Linked DNA regions of Homo sapiens: all the other regions are reported to be linked to region 4. Evidence: microRNA targets listed by miRTarBase, many of them from high-throughput screens and not tested one by one. Region 4 holds a microRNA gene; each other region holds the end of a gene's coding sequence.
What was found. Region 4 holds the annotated microRNA hsa-miR-3664-5p (AACUCUGUCUUCACUCAUGAGU, at 2,175-2,196, opposite strand). A microRNA usually pairs through its seed, bases 2 to 8, with sites in the 3' UTR of a target mRNA and lowers its output. Matches are read on the target gene's strand: a 7mer-m8 pairs with bases 2 to 8, a 7mer-A1 pairs with bases 2 to 7 and ends in A, and an 8mer does both.

Region 1: the mRNA of KATNAL1 is a reported target of hsa-miR-3664-5p. Seed matches in the 3' UTR shown: 7mer-m8 at 223-229.
Region 2: the mRNA of SAP30L is a reported target of hsa-miR-3664-5p. Seed matches in the 3' UTR shown: 7mer-A1 at 960-966.
Region 3: the mRNA of KBTBD6 is a reported target of hsa-miR-3664-5p. Seed matches in the 3' UTR shown: 7mer-m8 at 1,428-1,434.

What each region holds. Positions count from the first base shown.
Region 1 is chr13:30,205,608-30,208,760 of GRCh38, forward strand. It overlaps KATNAL1 (katanin catalytic subunit A1 like 1), which reads right to left. Exons shown (of 11, transcript NM_032116.5): 11 at 1-3,131. The coding sequence ends at 2,933. Among named protein-coding and RNA genes, the nearest start is that of LINC00385, 53 kb to the left of the region's middle.
Region 2 is chr5:154,455,384-154,458,545 of GRCh38, reverse strand. It overlaps SAP30L (SAP30 like), which reads right to left. Exons shown (of 4, transcript NM_024632.6): 4 at 1-2,646. The coding sequence ends at 2,518. Among named protein-coding and RNA genes, the nearest start is that of SAP30L, 11 kb to the right of the region's middle.
Region 3 is chr13:41,127,971-41,131,132 of GRCh38, reverse strand. It overlaps KBTBD6 (kelch repeat and BTB domain containing 6), which reads left to right. Exons shown (of 1, transcript NM_152903.5): 1 at 1-3,162. The coding sequence ends at 646. Among named protein-coding and RNA genes, the nearest start is that of KBTBD6, 3.2 kb to the left of the region's middle.
Region 4 is chr11:70,870,153-70,873,314 of GRCh38, forward strand. MIR3664 (microRNA 3664) reads right to left here and starts at 2,216; the gene lies at 2,118-2,216. All of the region lies in intron 11 of SHANK2 (SH3 and multiple ankyrin repeat domains 2), which reads right to left.

The DNA of each region.
Region 1 (3,153 bases), not on the chromosome of region 4:
GTCAGAGTGTGTGTGTGTGTGTGTATGTGAGTGTGAGTGTGTGTGTGATGTACATTAAAAGTTAGGGCTGGGCACAGTGGCTCACGCCTGTAATCCAAGCACTCATTCTGGTAAGGCAACACACTGTCTTCTGCAATAAAGACTGTGTGTGTGTGTGTGTGTGTGTGTGTGTGTGTGTGTGTCTCACGCCTATAAGGCAACACACTGTCTTCTGCAATAAAGACTCTGTGTGTGTGTATGTGTGTGTATGTGTGTCTGTCTCACGCCTGTAATCCTAGCACTCATTCTGGGTAAGGCAACACACTGTCTTCTGAAATAGTGTGTGTGTGTGTGTGTGTGTGTGTGTGTGTGTGTGTGTGTGTGTGTGTGTGTGTGTTGTATATTAAAAGTTAGGGCCAGGTGCGGTGGATCACACCTGTAATCCCAGCACTTTGGGAGGCCAATGTGGGCGGATCATCTGAGGTCAGGAGTTCGAGACTAGCCTGGCCAACATGGTGAAACTCTGCCTCTACTAAAAATACAAAAAAATAAGCCGGGTGTGGCGGCAACTGTAATCCCAGCTACTCAGGAGGCCGAGGCAGGAGAATGGCTTGAACCTGGGAGGCAGAAGTTGCAGTGAGCCGAGATCATGCCACTGCACTCCAGCCTGGGCGACAGAGCAAGACTCAGTCTCAAAATAAATAAATAAATAAAATAAAATAAAATAAAAGTTAAATAGAACACCTGAGGGATGTCTTTAAGATCCTTTAAGGGATTTAAGATATACAAAGCATCTACCATCCACTGACAGGGCAAAATGAGAAACAAGGGAAATAAAAAGCACACCTGACTCACTTAACATAGTAAAGTTAGGCTCCCAGGAAGTTTAAGTTGCCAAATACTGCTTAACTGGTATTAAAAGAATCACAATTACTATGTCATTATCCATGAAGAATTCAGAAAAATAATTAAATGCACACCAAGATAATCAATACAAAACCCAGAAAAGGTCTAACTAATCAACTATTGTTAGGCTGGTGCAAAAGTAATTGCGGTTTTTGCCATTGAAAGTAATGGAAAAACCACAATTACTTTTGCACCAACCCATTACAAACAAGTTTTAACAATCACAAGACTAATGTTTTAGTGACGGCTCCTAAAACTTCAGGGAAAAAAAAAGTGCATTTCTGACTGGCAATAGTTTGCAAAATAATCGTAATGAAACTACTTATTTCTTTATTTTAAAAGTTAATAAAAGGAAACCTCTCAATTTTTAGGAAGAATTCAATTACAATAAAATCATGATGTCTTATGATCTGGCATCTTATAATCTGTGTCTCAGAAAGAAGGGCAATTTACAGCATCAGATGAATACTGGAGTTTAGGTCAGACTTAAGTTATCTGAAAAGAACATAAGGCATTTACAGTTTTTAGCAGGGAAAAATAATCAAATCTCTTTTTTTAAAAAAAACCTTCTTAGTATCTTGGTTAAATGTCCAAAAAGCTGTATTATTTTTAGTTTTAAACCAGTAGGCACTATTCGAAACTGAGAATTCAGGATGTTATCAAATACAAATTTTTAAAAGCTTGACCATTAAAGCATAAATTGCCTAATGAGACACATGTAATCATAAAAACTAACGCCAGGATCATTTACTTGTGATTGGATATATGCCATTTATTTTTCTGGCTTCTTTCTAATGTGTAATTCCTGCTGAATTGAGTGAGCATGTCAGATTTCTATCTTTATCTTAGTGTGTGTAAAAGTTCTCAACCTAGACAAGGACAAATTTTAGAATTTTCCAATGAACATCATTCACTATGTATGATGCTGTTTTGTTAAACTAGCTGTTTGGAAAACAATAAAGATTTCATTTGTTTTGCGTTAGCCACAGAGAGTGGACTTGTTTAGAATGTAAAAGTATTTATCTCAAATACTAAAATCAAACTCAAGAAAAATCAAACAATGCTGGAGCTGAGAAAAATAATGGCTATATATCTGGTTGAACATGTTGAAAGAAAAGTGAAAACACAGCCAGGCATGGTGGTGCGCACCTGTAATCCCAGCTACTTGGGAGGCTGAGACAGGAGAATTGCTTGAATCTAGGAGGCAGAGGTTGCAGTGAGCCAAGATCAACCACTGCACTACACAGCCTGGGTGACACAGACTCCTTCACGCACACACAAAAAAGTGAAAACAAACTTGGAAGTCTAGAATGAAGAATTACATCTAATGCAGTAATATTCTTCCCACCTTTCCATATTAAATGTAAGAAGCACCAGCAAAAAATACTAAAGACAGAGAAATGACCTGGCAAAATGATTCAAATACCACAGAGCGTGAGAATATTCCTCAGTAAAGCTCAAGATATTATGAAGTAGCTAGCAGAAGAAATGGCAGGGGTAGCGGAAGTAAAAATTCTAACCATATGACAGACTCTAACAGTAAGTCATAAATTCTAAAGGTTTAATTAGTAAATTCATTATTTCCTCCAAAATATACTGTCATTCTTCTCTTAACAATGAATGTTTGACACAAATCCAATTTTGATGTTAAAAGTCAACATACATAGATAGGTCCCTCATGTTGACAGAGCACAGAATTGGAAAAAAAAACTGCAAATGAGAAATAGGGGTATTTCTAAATCTTCTGTATTCCTAAAATATCACACTGCGCCCTTGCTTCAGCCTCCCTGATAGACTGGTTTGGGTGTGCAATATTAATGCAGGAATACGTGGAATACCAGCACAAAGCCGGGGAGGGAGACTAGCAAACTCTCGCCATCAATTATTTCTCAACTACATTTAGTATTCTTCGCAGTTTTAGATTTTTTTTTCCTTTAAGCGAAAACCACTCCACTGAAAAAAATTCCAAACTTGTTTTTTAAAAATTGCAGGAATTTCTTCGTATTTTATCAACAAAAATACCAGAAATTAAAGAGCTGACAGAAATTCAAGCAGATCCAAATTCAACCATCCATTTTTCATACTTCTCCAAGTCTGCAGCAGAGACAGACTTAGCAATTTTCTTTAGGGCCAATTCAAAGTCTCCTTTGGTAACAGGCATCTGAAGTTCCTCTTTAGAAAGTGCACGGATTTCTTCTGGACTTAAGCCATTGATACGCCGTCTCATTGCCATTAAAGAGGCATCCCTAAAAATATACCAAAATCAGT
Region 2 (3,162 bases), not on the chromosome of region 4:
CTTGATGGATGGTATAAAAATGGAGCAGCCAAGATGAACATTGCTTTCCCCACACCCCACTGCTCCCTGAAGCCAGACCCCGTTGCTCTGGAGGGCCTGGCCACTTCTCACAGGCAGGAGTCCCTTGCCCACAGATAGAGCCACCAGAAACTGCAGAAGAGGCTAAGGCGAGTGGTTTAGTGGTTTGATGAAAGAACAGATTTCTGGACATAAGAAAAACATAGGTTCAAATAGCTTTGTCTTTTCTCTCACCTGACCTGTTGAAAGGTCAGATTGAAAAGGTTGAAAAGATGCCCACAACCTCCACTTTCCACAAGCACCTCTCCTTAGAGGAAAGACAAGGGACCCAAGTACACACACAGCATCTGGCTGAAGGTAAAACATTTCCCCAGGTTTCGCTTTGGAATAAAGATTCTTTCAGACACAATTGAACAGATGGATCCTACCATCATATATTCTTGTGCAGAAGCTATTGTCTCTCTCAACTGGGAAAACAGATTTGCTGCTAAAGAAATAGTGATGTGACCTACACGCCCACAATTCTGGTTTACGTATCAGAAAAATACACTTTTTTACTCATTAAGATATGGACATTTCCATGGAGCAAGTTAACAATGCCTTAACCTGCAGGCCCCATCTGCCCCTCAGCCTTCTTGATGCCTGTATCAACATCCTTCAGCTGTAAGCAGGGAGAGAATCTCTAAACACATAGTGAATGTGAATGACTGAAAACACTCACAGAGCACTGGACATGCCATCCACAGCCAGGAGGCATACCAAAATAGGATGCCCTCACAGTCCAGAGTATATTCTATATACAACCATTTATATATATTTAATTTAAAAGGCTGCAATCTGCTAGACATGCATTTTGAACACAGGCGAAAGCTTTGCTGCAATGGAACATACTGCATTTTAGTGAGCGTGGTGACCCTGTCCCCATTCCACAGAAAGCGTGGTACTCTGCTCCACAGAACTGAGACCTTTGGACACTCCGCCGCCCTGCTCAGTAGGGGGTTTAGTCCTGACTTCTCTGTGATGGTGCTCAGATTAAGTCATCTGTGAAACTCTCTGCCAGGCCAGGCTGTCCATTGTTCTTATTATTTAAGGCTTAAGAAATTAACTCAGAATTGAAACTGAGTAGGAAAATGACACCTTTGACCATATGTCAAGATGGTCATAAATTAGAATCCAAATTCTTTTCTTTTCTTTCTCCCACCCTCCTACCCCATACCCTCTGCCCTCCATTACACAGATTAAAGAATTTTGCAAAAGCACATTTTTGGATATAAAGCTTTGTTTTCACAGGATACTTTGGCTCTGATATAATTAGATTGAGGAGTTCAACGTTTTGAACAACAAAAAAATTAGGTAATTTTCAAAAATTATTTTAGCAATCTTTCTCCCTAAGAGGGAGGCAAATTGTTCACAAAAATGAGCATCAGATGGAATTGACCTTTGTTGCCCAAACTCATGATTTGCTGATGACCAGAGCCCAGGGAGTCAAGGCCAGCCAGACTTTCAATCCTAAGCTGAACTTCTGGGCAGGAATCACATGGCCCCTGGCAGCTTGCATGGTGGTTGTGAACTTAGGATGAAAACTTCTAAAAATACTTGCCCCAACCTACTAAATATGTCAGTGTGTCAATGCATTTATTACCAAGAAGCTTGGCTGAAGTCATAATATCTAACTGCACCCCAAAGAGTGAAGCATAGTGGGGTGCATAAGGGACCGTATCTTCTGTGAGGGTCTCTATATCAGTGTTTCTGGAACCTCAACGAATAGTTTTGCACATGCAACTGTCCTGAAATCCTTATCTGATCAGAAACTTCCTTGTTGGTGCATCAGGATTTCCTCCACATTCTAGCAGTTAAGTGGTGAGCAACAGAAATGGCAGAGGTCTCAGTCATGAGAGGTGTGAAGCGGATGTTACAAGGCTGGCACTATTAGTGACAGCTCAATTAGCCAATACCTACTGATTGAGTGCCTACTGTGTACAAGGCACAGGGTGAGTGAGGGGGACCAGTGTCAAACTGATCTGCTGATAAATGACAAAGCTTGCAACAAAGCGGGCGGGATATCTATGTCGCCAGCGGGCAGCATGCAAGTCCAGATGTGGGTCTGCTCATGCACTTCCATGGCCAATTGCACCTTGCTGCTATTCCAAGCTACAGCTCACACGTGGCAGCCTGGTGGATAAGGTGATTACCAAAATATTTCTTATCCCACATTTCCAGTAGAATTGATTTAATGCTTTGTTGAATGCTGAAATACATAGTTTTTAATTCTTTTAATGATCCTGATTTTTTTAGTCCAGAGTTATCGTAAAAGAAAGTCTTTCTATACACATGCTGAATCATGAGAATATAATCCTCCTGACCAAAAAGATTTACAGTATTCATCATTCAAACTTTTTTATTTACAATAATATTTAACAGTCTTTATGGGCTTAAATGTAGTAGATATCACCTGTGCATCAAGCATTACACTTCATTCCTTTAAGATGTGCTTCATCCTCACTCAAGCTGCTTGCCACCCTCCGATTTCTGGTCCAGTCTACTCTTGTTACTCTTCACCATGTAGATGAAGTAGGCAAGGGTCTCTTTTTCATTCACAGGTATGTTCCTGAAGTGTCGACTCACAGTCTATGTGGGGGGAAAATACCAAAGTTCCTTAAACCATGCACAAATCACACCGCAAATTCTACATTGTACAAAGAAGCGAATGGAGTTGTTTGCATGCTGTGGCGGGAATGACAAATGCTGAAGAACTTCCTGCCATGTGCGGAACTCAGAGTGCCCTTTGCCCTTCCTCCCCAGGGATGTAGGTGGTTTAATTTCCAGGATCCAAAAGTGGCTTTTTAACCTACAACTCTTCCAAGGTGCAGTTCTATTTCAGTGGCAGCCAACCACCTGTCATGGCATGATTTCACAGTCATACTCATGGAGGAGAGACTGGGACTGCTCTGGTTGGCCAGCTGCTACCAAACCTCTCAGGCCTTGAAAGTGGGAAGAAATGTGTCTTTAAAAAATTGTGGGGCAGGCGTGGTGGCTCACACCTATAATCCCAATGCTTTGGGAGGTTAAGGTGGGAGGATTAGTTGAGGCCAGGAGTTCGAGACCAGCCTAGGCAACACAGTGGAGAACTCATCTCTACCAAAA
Region 3 (3,162 bases), not on the chromosome of region 4:
GAGAAACCAGTGGGCATTGGTGGCTCCACTGCCCCATTCTTTTTTATCCTTTGACCTAATGGTAATTCGAGACTATCTCTATGCTCTCAACAGTAAGCGCATGTTCTGTTATGATCCTAGCCACAATATGTGGCTGAAGTGCGTTTCTCTGAAGCGCAATGACTTTCAGGAAGCCTGCGTCTTCAATGAGGAGATCTATTGTATCTGTGATATCCCAGTCATGAAGGTCTACAACCCAGTTAGGGCAGAATGGAGGCAAATGAATAATATTCCCTTGGTCTCAGAGACCAACAACTACAGAATTATCAAGCATGGCCAAAAATTGTTGCTCATCACCTCTCGCACCCCACAGTGGAAAAAGAACCGGGTGACTGTGTATGAATATGATATTAGGGGAGACCAATGGATTAATATAGGTACCACATTAGGCCTCTTGCAGTTTGATTCTAACTTTTTTTGCCTCTCTGCTCGTGTTTATCCTTCCTGCCTTGAACCTGGTCAGAGTTTCCTCACTGAAGAAGAAGAAATACCAAGTGAGTCTAGCACTGAATGGGACTTAGGTGGATTCAGTGAGCCAGACTCTGAGTCAGGAAGTTCAAGTTCTCTTTCTGATGATGATTTTTGGGTGCGTGTAGCGCCTCAGTGAAATGCACAGGATCAACAGGGTTTGTTGTAACTAGATTGAAACACTAAGTTGTTTTTACTGTTTTGGAAAATATCTTAAATATCCTTTTTGTTCCTAAAGGAGAGGAAAAGTTGATTAACTTCTGGTTTGGTTTAGAAAAAGTAATGTTTGAAATACGAAGGTAATTTAATGTTACAAATTTTAACACTCAAATCAACCTTTTAATAATTTTCTGTGCTAAGGGTCCAGTATTTATTTGATTATTTAGTATGTTTATGTTTCATGACACTAATTTAGTCTTTTGATACATTTTACATTCTGTTTACTGCCACAAGCACTGTGGCAATAACTTTTGAATTTTAATTTTTATAATAGAAAAATGATTAGGAATTGCTAGATAGTGTTTTGAAAGCATATCTTTTTCTTCAGAACAATGTAGACTTCCAAAATGGTTAACCTAAGGGGTCTTTACAAAATGTGTTATAAGTTAAACATAATTTGGGAAGTTTTACTTTTGTTTTCTTCTATGAAGAAAAAAATGCAGGCTGGGCGCGGTGGCTCACGCCTGTAATCCTAGCACTTTGGGAGGCCGAGGCAGGTGGATCACCTGAGGTCAGTTCAAGACCAGCCTGGCCAACATGGTGAAACCCCGTCTCTACTAAAAATACAAAAATTAGCTGGGCGTGGTGGCATGCGCCTGTAATCCCAGCTACCCAGGAGGCTGAGGCAGGAGAATTGCTGAAACCCGGGAGTCAGAGGCTGCAGAGAGCCGAGACTGGGCCACTGCACTCCAGCCTGGATGACAGAGTGAGACTCCGTCTCAAAAAAAAAAAAAAAAAAAAAAGGAAAAAAAAAAAAGAAAAAAAACCATATGTGTATTAGGGTGACTGAGTGGTGACTTCATTTATAATAATACAGAGAATAGCTATAAGCTCATTGACAGTAAAAACAACAAACCAGGATTCTACTGTTTGAAAAGAAGTTTCGTTTTAATTTTGGAATTTAGAATGTGTATTTGCAAAGTCACCAATTTTCATCTAAAAGGTTATATTCTAGTTGTGTCACCAAATCATCAAAAAACCTTAAAAAAGAAGTAACTTGCTTTGTAGGTTTGTATTGTTGATCTAAACCTGATACATGCTTCATTTAATCAGGAATAATCCTTTTTTTTCTGCTGGACATGTATAAATTTCACTGGATTGTATAAATTTTTATCTATTGCCTTAAACATTTACATGATTCTCAATATGTTTTAGCTGTACAGTTTTGGTGTTCATCTTAGAGGATTCTTCAGCAGAAGTGATATTTCTTTACTGTTTTGTGAGGTAATACTGATTTTGAAAATATATATAAGCTAAAAACAGTATTTCGTTGATATCAGTAGTCATTGTGTTAACTATAAAGTCAAGTGCCAGCAAAGAACTTTAAAACTGTAAAGCTGTGTATAGAACTGTTTTGTGTAGCATGGAAATATTCTGTCAGCTTTTTAAAGTCACTAAATGTTCTTGATTATCAGCTTGAAGGTATTTTTGTATTACAAGTTGACAGTTGCTGGGTGTAGTGGCTCATGCCTGTAATCCTAGCAACTCGGGGCTGAGGTGGGAGGATTGCTTCAGCCCAGGAGTTTGAGACCAGCCTGGGCAACATAGCAAAACCCCATCTCTACAAAAATAAAAAATATGTCTGGGCATGGTGGCCCAAGTCTGAGTCCCAGTTACTTGGGAGGATCACTTGAATGTAGGATCACTTGAGTCTAGGAGTTCGGGGCTGCAGCTATCATCTGCAGCTATAATCATAGCTCACTGCAGCTATGATCATGTCTCAGCACTCCAGCTTTGGCAACAGAACGAGATCCCATCTCTTAGAAAAACAAAGTTGATAGTTAAAGAACATAAGTGGATGATGGCATTTGAGGCCACTAGTGAAAGTATGTTTTCTCTAAAATATTTCTCTAATAGTGATATAAATGGCTATTTTATTATGATGTTTGTATGTGTTTTGTATTTCTCTGTAAACCATGCTCCAGTCTTTGTTTTTCTGTTACCATAATGTAAGAGAAGGTCCTGGAACAGAGACTAAATCCCACGAAACTGACATTGTTAAACACACTAAAACAGAAGTACTTACCTCTTGAAGATTTAATATATAATGGTTGACATGATACATGTACATGATGAATGACCAGATGCTTATGGTCTACATTTTCCTTTATCCTGTTAGTATTACCTTCCTTAATCTTTGTTCATTAACATGCTAATTCCTCTTCAGTGTTTATTTTCTAGTGACAGAATGCTAACATTTCTTACACCCTGGCAGAAGGGAGAGAAATGTGTTTTGGGGTGGGTAACTAAATTTTTGAGTGAAATATCATAAGATGAGAATGGAAAGAGGGAGACACAAAGAGTTATAACAAAAAAACAATGGTTTTTTTAGCCATTTGACTGGCTCTTTAAATAGTCTACAAGACATTCACGTTTAACATCACTTTTAGTGAAATAAAATGTGCCATACTAGTATGTGCTTCAAAAGGGCAAATG
Region 4 (3,162 bases):
GGATGAGCACAGCAGCAGAATCTGAGTGCTGGAGGCTCACCCAGGCAGAGTGTGCTCCACTTCGTTCCAGGGGACTGAGAGAAATGAACCCGGGGTGAGACCCAGAGCCGTCCCCTCCTGCAGTCCATCTGGGCCAAAATGAGAGCCCAACCAGTGGGGAGGGAGGGGCAGATTCAGGAAATAGAAAAAGTGGAAGGGGCTGGTTCTGGACAGATGGGAAAAGGGCAGGTGAGCGCCAGGAAAGATCTAGGAAGGTTTTTGGGTTTTCAGTTCCTGGGCCATAACTGAGATGGGGTGCCCAGGAGGAAGGGCCAGCTGGCCAGGAAAGATGGGGTATGTTCACTGGAGCTCCTGTAACCACAGCCTGGGTGACTGAAACCACAGGGATGAATTGTCTCATGGTTCTGGAGGTTGGAAGTCTGAGGTCAAGGTGTTGGCAGTGGGGGGGTTCACACTGGGGACTGCAGGGAGACTCTGTTCCAGGCCTGTCTCTCCAGCTCCCAGTGGCCTGTAGGCAATCTTTGGCATTCCTTGACTGACAGAAGCATCACCCAGAGCTCTGCCTTCATCTTTGTGTGAGGTTTGCTCCGAGTGCATGGCTGTGGCCACATTTCATTCATTCATTCATTCATTTATTTATTTGAGATGGAGTCTTGCTGTGTCGCCCAGGCTGGAGTGCAGTGGCACGATCTCGGCTCACTGCAGCCTCCGCCCACACAGATTCAAGTGATTCTCCTGCCTCAGCCACCCAAGTAGCTGGGACTACAGGCACCCGCCACCACGCCCGGCTAATCTTTGTATTTTTAGTAGAGACGGGGTTTCACCATGTTGGCCAGGCTGGTCTCGAACTCCTGACTTCAGGTGATCCATCCGCCTCAGCCTCCCAAAGTGCTGGGATTATAAGCATGAGCCACTGCACCCGGTCCCATTTCCTCTTTTTATAAGAATATCAGTCCTACTGGATTAGGGCCCAATCTAATGACCTCATTTTCAGCTGATGACTTCTGTAAAGACCCTACCTCTAAACAAGGTCACACTCTGAGATCCTCAGGGTGATACTTCAACATATGCATTTGCAGGGACACACTTCAAAGGGGAGTCAGGGGTCTGGGCTCGCCTGGTGGCAGGCTCTGCAGGAGATGAGTCTGAGGGTCCAAGAGGAGGTCCAGGGAGCGCTCTGCAAGCCACCAGCCCCGAAGATCACTGGCACCATAGGAGCAGGGCAGGATGGGCGGGGGTGGGGAGCAGAGAGCAGAGCAAGGGCAACCACAGAACCTGGGGCCACACCACCTTCTGAGATGAGCCACATAGCCTGGCACTGAGCCTCCTTCACGTGCTGAGGCCACATCTGTGTGCCATGGAGCCTGTGAGCCCCTGGAGGGAGAGGCTGTGCCTGGGACCCTGCGGATTCCCCAACACATTTGCTGAACAAGCAGGGCAGGGAGAGAAAGGAAAGTGAGGTCGAGACAAATATTATAAATATGACCATATCCCTGATGGAGAAGAAAGTCAAGAAAGAGTTCATGTTGAAAGGCAACACGGGCCAGACACACCTGGTACTCAGGGGCCCTGCAGGGTTTTACAGCAAACTGTGGCCACATGGGGGCTGGGAGGGGACAGCCAGGAAAGAGGCACAGTCCCCATCTGAATTTGACTGAGAGACTCTTTGAAGCCGTCTGAGATTTCCATATACGATTTCTATTAATATTTAAGGCAAGACGCATCCCATCCTCCATAACAACACCGTCTTGAAAGAAGCCTTTGAACTACTTGAAAGGTAAACCCAGCATTATTCTTGGATTAAGAACTCTTGTTCATTCAACAAATACAGCCCCACGACGACATCCCTGAACACCAGAGCCAGAGGTGCCTTGGCATGTGCACGCTGCCTGCTTCTGCAGCAGTAGGATGATGCGTGTGTGGCCTGTTACGTCACACCGCCAGTGGGTCTGGGCAGTGTCCCATTGCCAATTGCGGGAGGAGTCCTTCAGGGCACGGATGAATAATCATGCTAAGTAGGATAAATAAAAACTATAAATAGCCTCAAATCAGTTCAGGTCAAGTACTACTGCCAACGAGCTACGGAGAAGGCATTCGCTTTTCAGATCTTTTTGCAGATCCACATTGAAGGTAGGGAACTCTGTCTTTACTCCTGAGAGCTCGTGTTGGAAGGTACTCATGAGTGAAGACAGAGTTCCCTACCTTCAAGTTTACAGAGGAGACGGGGTGCACAGTGGAAAGGAGGGGAAAAAAACCCCACACGCATGAAGAGGAAAGACAAGTAGGATGCAGGCTTGGAGGTGGAGGCTCGGCGGGACGGGGAGAAAAAAGGACAAGACCCTTCCCTAGAAGCGCTTGGTGGACACAGTGGGTGCAAACGACCAAGTGGCTGGATGGAGGGAAGAGAGACCCTCAGATGGAGGGAATAGGGGGCCCCCATACAGAGGGGCCCCCCACAGACCAGAGTCAGGGGCACACAGGTCCGTGAGCTACGTGGAATGAGAGATGGGTCCCTGGACCACATTACTTCCGGCTCCCTGGTGTATCTCCTCCACGTTCTGGCCACCTGCGGGTCCCTGTTTTCCTCCACACTGACCACTTGAAAACTGATGGGTGGCAATTTTCACCCCTCATTGTCCTAAGGGTCGTGGGGGCTGCTTTGCTTGGTGCTGGAGTCTGGGGCCACAGTGGAACATGGCATTGATTGCTAAGAGGAAGGGACCCCACGATGCCCTGTAGAGCCCAGCTCCTCGGGGCAGGAGGAGCACATATCCACTGTCTGCCCTCTCCCCACACTCATGACCTCCACCTCCCCCAGCCCCAAACATTACAAAAGCTAAAGACATCCTGGGCACCTGTGAGAAAGGAAGAGCGGAGGTAGTTCCCACGTCCATCCTGGTGCCTCTGCCTCCCGGGTGGCGACCCTCAGGAAGGTGAAACCTGCAGCTTGGGCCCTGCAGTTTATAGAATGATATGTTTGTGGTTCCCTAAAACAAAGAGCCGTTGCCACAGCAACCGTGGCATCCCAGCACTCAGAGGCTATTCTCAGACACTAAACAATGAGTTTTGCCTTTCAAATGCATTTGATACAATTTGCTTGGAAGGCATTAACATCCTCTGACAAAACCCATGAGGAAGAGGAGGGCAGGTGAGAGCTGACAA